Linked DNA regions of Homo sapiens: region 1 is linked to region 2. A link means that fine-mapping ties the variant in region 2 to the expression of a gene that starts in the linked region. Tissue or cell type: whole blood. Region 2 holds a variant in brackets; the other region holds the start of a gene. All regions are shown on one strand. Distances are from middle to middle.

Region 1 (2,678 bases), 34 kb before region 2:
GCCTCCCAAAGTGCTGGGATTACAGGCGTGAGCCACCATGCCCGGCCTGCATTATTTCTTACAACTACTTGTGAATCTACGATTAAAACAACAAAAACTAACTATATACATAGGCGTACATATGAAATAATGGTACATGAAATAGACCCGAAATGGCCAAAAAGTGCAGATGTCCTGGCAGGTGGTTTGAACCGAGGGCTTGGGGCGCTGGCCTTTGAATCCTAGCTCCTGCGCTTACCGCCCCGGTGACTGGACCAGGTTCCTCACTGCTTTGTGCCTCAATGTCCTCATCTGCGAGCTGGGGCCATGACAGAACCCGCCCGGAAGCCCTGCCTGTGCTCAGCGTCCACCCCAATTCCCGGGGGCGAGGCCTGGTGCTCCCTGGGACTGTGGCCCTGTCTGGACCAAAAGCGTGAGTTCTGGCTCCGAGCATCTGGAAGGTTCAGCCCTCCCCCTCCCCCAAGGGTCCCAACTGTGACTCACTGAGCCCCGGCCGGTGCACCTCCCGCAGGGTGTGGGTCATGCCCGCCTTGTAGCCCAGGAAGGCCGTGAGGTGCACGGGCTGGCTGGGGTCATCCCGCGGCCACGTCTTCACCTTGCCCCGGTGCCGGTGGCTCCTCTTATGGGGCAGGAAGCCCAGGTGTCCGTGCCGAGGGGCGGAAAACTTCCGGTGGGACTGGGGGGCAGGAAGGAAGGAGGTCAGACCTGGGGTGTCCCTGGTGGTAGAGCTGGATGGTCCCAGAACCCATACCTGGAGAAATGGACTACAGGCTTCAGACTGAGGCCTGTGCTCAGCACCTCCCCTGTCTGCCTACAGGAGGGGAGAGGAAGGTTCACCAAGGGGCAGCGTCTTTGGGATGGGGTCTCCATAGCCACAGGCTTCCTGCCTCTGTGGGCTCAGCCTGGGGCCCAGGAGGGTCGCACCCATACTGCAGCCAAGGGCTCCTGGGGCAGGTGGCCGCTGCCATCTGTTCATCTCCAGGGCCCTCCCAGGCCCAGGAGCCCAGCCCTCGTCCCCTTGTTTCCCCCTCCAGCCTCCCATCCCCTCACAGGCTGGGAGACTGTCCCTCTGAGGGAGCATCCAGAAGCCCAGCTGTCCCACCCCCCCAGAGTTCCAGCTCCAACCCCAGCCCACCCTCACCCTGGTCCCACCAACCATGGTGGCCGATCCCTGAAGGTCAGGAAGGGGCCTCGCCGCTAGCCGCCAGAGGTCGAGTGGCAGGGCCAGGACTCACAGCTGCCAGTTCCCAGATTAGCCCCTGGCACAGTCAGCAGGGTCTCCGGTGCCAGGAGCAGGCAGGGGCGGGGCAGTGTTGGGGGCATCAGATAGACAGCCTGAGTGGGGCACCCGGAGCCAGGGCTGGCACTCCTTTCCTCGATGGCCCTGGGGCTGGGTCATGACCCTCCCAGGACAGGACTGGCCAGGCAAGGTGGGGGCCAAGGTAGCCGGTGGGGGCCTTCTCCCAGGCAGCGGCCAAGAGGAGGGGTCTGGAGCAGTTTGCCGACTTGGAGGCAGAGGGGGTTCCTGTCCTGAGGGCTGGGAGACAGCTGGATAAACAGCGGGGAGCAGGGCTGGGGACAGGGCAGACGAGGGGGAGGGCTGACTGCACCTTGAGGATCACCAGAGCTGTGCTTCCAGATTGAGATCCCTGGCTGAGTGCAGTGGCTCATGCCTGTAATCCCAGCACTTTGGGAGGCTGAGGCAGGAGGATCACTTGAGCCCAGGATGTCAGGCCGCAGTGAACCTTGACTGCACTCCAGCCTGCGTGACTGAGCGAGACACTGTCTTAAAAACAAAAAAAAAGCCAGCCTGGCCAACATGGTGAAACCCCATCTCTACTAAAAATATAAAAATTAGCCGGGCGTGGTGGTGTGGGCCTGTTAATTCCAGCTACTTGGGAGGCTGAGGCAGGAGAATCACTTGAACCTGGGAGGCAGAGGTTGCAGGTTGCAGTGAGGCGAGATCGCGCCGCTGCACTCCAGCCTGGGCAATAGGGTAAGACTCCGTCTCAAAAAAAAAAAAAAAATCAAGATCTGACTCCTGTCATTCACAATCATTGAAATACTTTTATGAATTTATCTTTTTTATTTTTTTGAGATGGAGTCGCTCTGTTGCCCAGGCTGGAGTGCAGAGGCGTGATCTCGGCTCACTGCAAGCTCCCCCTCCCGGGTTCACACCATTCTCCTGCCTCAGCCTCCCAAGTAGCTGGGACTACAGGCGCCTGCCACCACACCCGGCTACCTTTTTGTATTTTTGGTAGAGACGAGGTTTCACTGTGTTAGCCAGGATGTTCTCGATCTCCTGACCTTGTGATCTGCCTACCTCAGCCTCCCAAAGTGCTGGGATTACAGGCATGAGCCACCGCGCCTGGCCTTATTTAAAGAGACAATGTCTCATTCCATGGCTCAGGCTGGAATGCAGCGGTGTGATCATACCTCACTTGCAGCCTCAACCTTTTGGGCTTAAGTGGTCCTTCTGCCTCAGCAGGACCTAATTTTTAAATGTGTCTTGTTGTAGAGGCGGGCGTCTCACCATGTTGCCTAGGCTGGTCTGAAACTCCTGGCCTCAAGTGATTCTCCTGCCTCAGCCTCTCAAAGTGCTGAGATTACAGGTATAAGCCACAGCACCTGGCCAAATTTAAATTTTGAATTTAAGTTTTGAATGAAGAGGGGGTTGA
Region 2 (2,678 bases):
TTGGGCCTCCCCAGCCAGAGCAGCCCAGCAACAGTGTGTCCTGTGGTCATAAAACTCCAGGGACCTCTATCCTCCAGGAGTCTCAGCCTTTCCCTGGGCGCAGGCCCACCTTGGCATGGCCGCCTCAGGCCTCCATGGAGGGAGCTGCTATGTCCCCACCAGATTGGCCCCGTGCGGCTGCTGGCTTCTGTAGAGGCTGCCCAGAGGGGCCAGGTGGCACAAATAAGAGAGGGGAGATGGGGGGCAGCCAGGAGAGGAGGTGTCCCTTCCTCGCCCAGACACAGCGCGCTTCTCTCTGGCCTTTCCCGAGGCCTGTGAGTGCCTCAGGAAGCAGCTGGGCCCTCTGGGAAGGCTGTGTTCAGCTTAGGAACATACCGCCTGTATCTGCTGTCCCTCCCCTGCCCCCCTGCCCCCCCCACCGCCTTCCCTTTTTCCCTGTCTTCCTTAAAGTTTCACTCCTGAATAAAACTTCACTTTGCCTTAGAATCTGTTTTTCTTTTTGTTGTTGTTTTGTTTTTCTGAGACAGAGTCTAGCTCTGTCGCCCAGGCTGGAGTGCAGTGGAGCAGTCTCGGCTCACTGCAACCTCCATCTCCCGGGTTCAAGCAATTTCTCCTGCCTCAGCCTCCCGAGCAGCTGGGATCACAGGCGCCCACCACCACCCCCTGCTAATTTTTGTATTTTTAGTAGAGACAGGGTTTCACTGTGTTGGCCAGGCTGGTCTTGAACTCCTGACCTCATGAACCACCCACCTCAGCTTCCCAAGGTGCTGAGATTACAAGCGTGAGCCACTGCGCCAGGCCAGAGTCTGTTTTTGAAGGCATCCAGGCCAGTGGAACTCTAGTGCAAGGAAAAGTTCTGGCTTGAGCTGGTGTTCCAGAGCTGTTGACACGCAGACCAAAGGAGTTAGCACAGAGGGAGAGACCTCCCCAGGATCGCGCCCTGGGCTCCTAAGGCTCACAGGTCACAGAGGAAGGACCCATGAGGGAGGAGGACCTCCAGGAGGGGCATAGTGGCTCACGCCTGTAATCCCAGCACTTTGGGAAACCAAGGTGGGCAGATCACTTGAAGTCAGGAGTTCGAGACCAGCCTGGTCAACATGGCGAAACCCCGTCTCTACTAAAAATACAAAAAAAAAAAAAAAAAAAATTAGCTGGGTGCGGTGGCACACCTGGAATCCCAGCTACTCCAGTGGCTGAGGTAGGAGAATC[A/G]CTTGAGCCCCTGAGGCAAAGCTTGCAGTGAGCCAAGATTGCGCCACTGCACTCCAGCCTGGGTAACAGAGTGCGACTGTAACTCAAAAAATAAATAAATAACTAAAGAAATAAATGAGTCGACAGCAGCATCAGACTTGCCCTTGGGATTGGCACGGAGAGGTCAGTGGCAACCTTGAGTTTAGGTGGCGGTGGGAGCTGATTCTGCCGGGTCAGAGGGAGAGAGAGGAGGGTGTTGCAGGCAGAGTTTGCTGCTAAAGGAAGCAGTAACGTAAGGCAGCTGGAGGGGAGGTGGGGTCAACAGTGTTTGGCTTTTAGGAGAAAGTGCAGCATGTCTGGGTGCTGATGTTAGTGATGAAGTAGAGAATGAATGACACAGAGGGGAGGTCTGTGGCCAACAGGTGAGAGGGGTTGTGATCGGACGCACAGTGTGATGGACTTGGAACACAGTGAGTAGCGCCTCTGGCAACACCTGCTCTGCCCACCTGTGCCCAGCAAGGCTGAAGAATGAGCTCCAGGGGGGCTGGGCCACGCAGCACCATCTGTGCACCCGGCTCGTGTAGCAGGGACCTGGGTTGCTTATTATCTGAAGTACAGGGTGGTAACAGTCTCCGCCACTACACAGGTCAAGCGCTTGGCGCTGTAAATGTCAGTGCAGACATCTCAGTGCTCTAGACAGAAACCTAGGAGTCATCTGAACTTCCAGCCTGCTAGGAACATGAGGAGAGGGACCTTGTTGCACCCAAGGCTGGGGTCTGTGGAGGGGACTCAGCGGGACACAGGGCAGCCAGGCACCACCCCCACCCGACTCCTAGTCTCTGATGCCGCTCCCTGCCCTCCATTCCAGACTAGGCGCCGCAAGTACGCTGGGGAGACCCAGGAGTAGGGAGGGCATTGGGAGCACCACCACCTGGCCACGGGCAAGGAGCGGAGACACCGAAACCAACACTCCCAGCGGCGCTGGCCACGGTGGCTCTGTCCCCTCCCTCAACAGGTGCTCCTGGGGCCAACGCCTTTCTTCCCACCAGATCCTCCCCGCCAGAGGCTAGAAGCTGTGATAGCAGCTAGAGCACAGTGGGGGGCCATGAGAAAGACCCCAGTTATCCATCTGGTCTTCTTGGGACCAGGGCCAGGGAGCCGGTCCCCTCTCCCGTGGGTTGGGGGAAGATGCTGCAGCCCGTGGACCTCCTACCCCTTTACTCCCTCACCCAAGTGCCCTTCCCAGAGGAGCGGACTCCTCCTGTCTGTCCTCCCGGCTCTAGCAAAGTCTGCGCCCAGCACCCGAGCCCCACCCTGCCCCCGGGGACCTGGCTGGTGGGTTCCTGAGGATGGTCTCCATCTCGGGACCGGGGCAGGCAGGTGAGGGTGGGGGATGGGAGGTGGGCGCGGCGGAGGGAGAGGAGGGACCCGGCCCCGCGCGCATGGACCCAGTGGGGGGCGCGGGCGCGGCCCCGCCCCGTCCCGCGCGT

The links. PIP is the estimated chance that this variant, and not a neighbour inherited with it, causes the effect.
Region 1: RPL3L starts here. The variant in region 2 is fine-mapped to the expression of RPL3L in whole blood (INTERVAL, PIP 0.96).

Annotation. Positions count from the first base shown.
Region 1 is chr16:1,953,473-1,956,150 of GRCh38, forward strand. RPL3L (ribosomal protein L3 like) reads right to left here and starts at 1,217. Exons shown (of 10, transcript NM_005061.3): 1 at 1,157-1,217; 2 at 484-676. The coding sequence starts at 1,159. RefSeq lists an enhancer at 1-921.
Region 2 is chr16:1,987,264-1,989,941 of GRCh38, forward strand. GFER (growth factor, augmenter of liver regeneration) reads left to right here. Exons shown (of 3, transcript NM_005262.3): 3 at 1-486. Among named protein-coding and RNA genes, the nearest start is that of SYNGR3, 1.4 kb to the right of the region's middle. RefSeq lists an enhancer at 1,665-2,244. The variant A/G (reference allele first, on the strand shown) is at 1,210.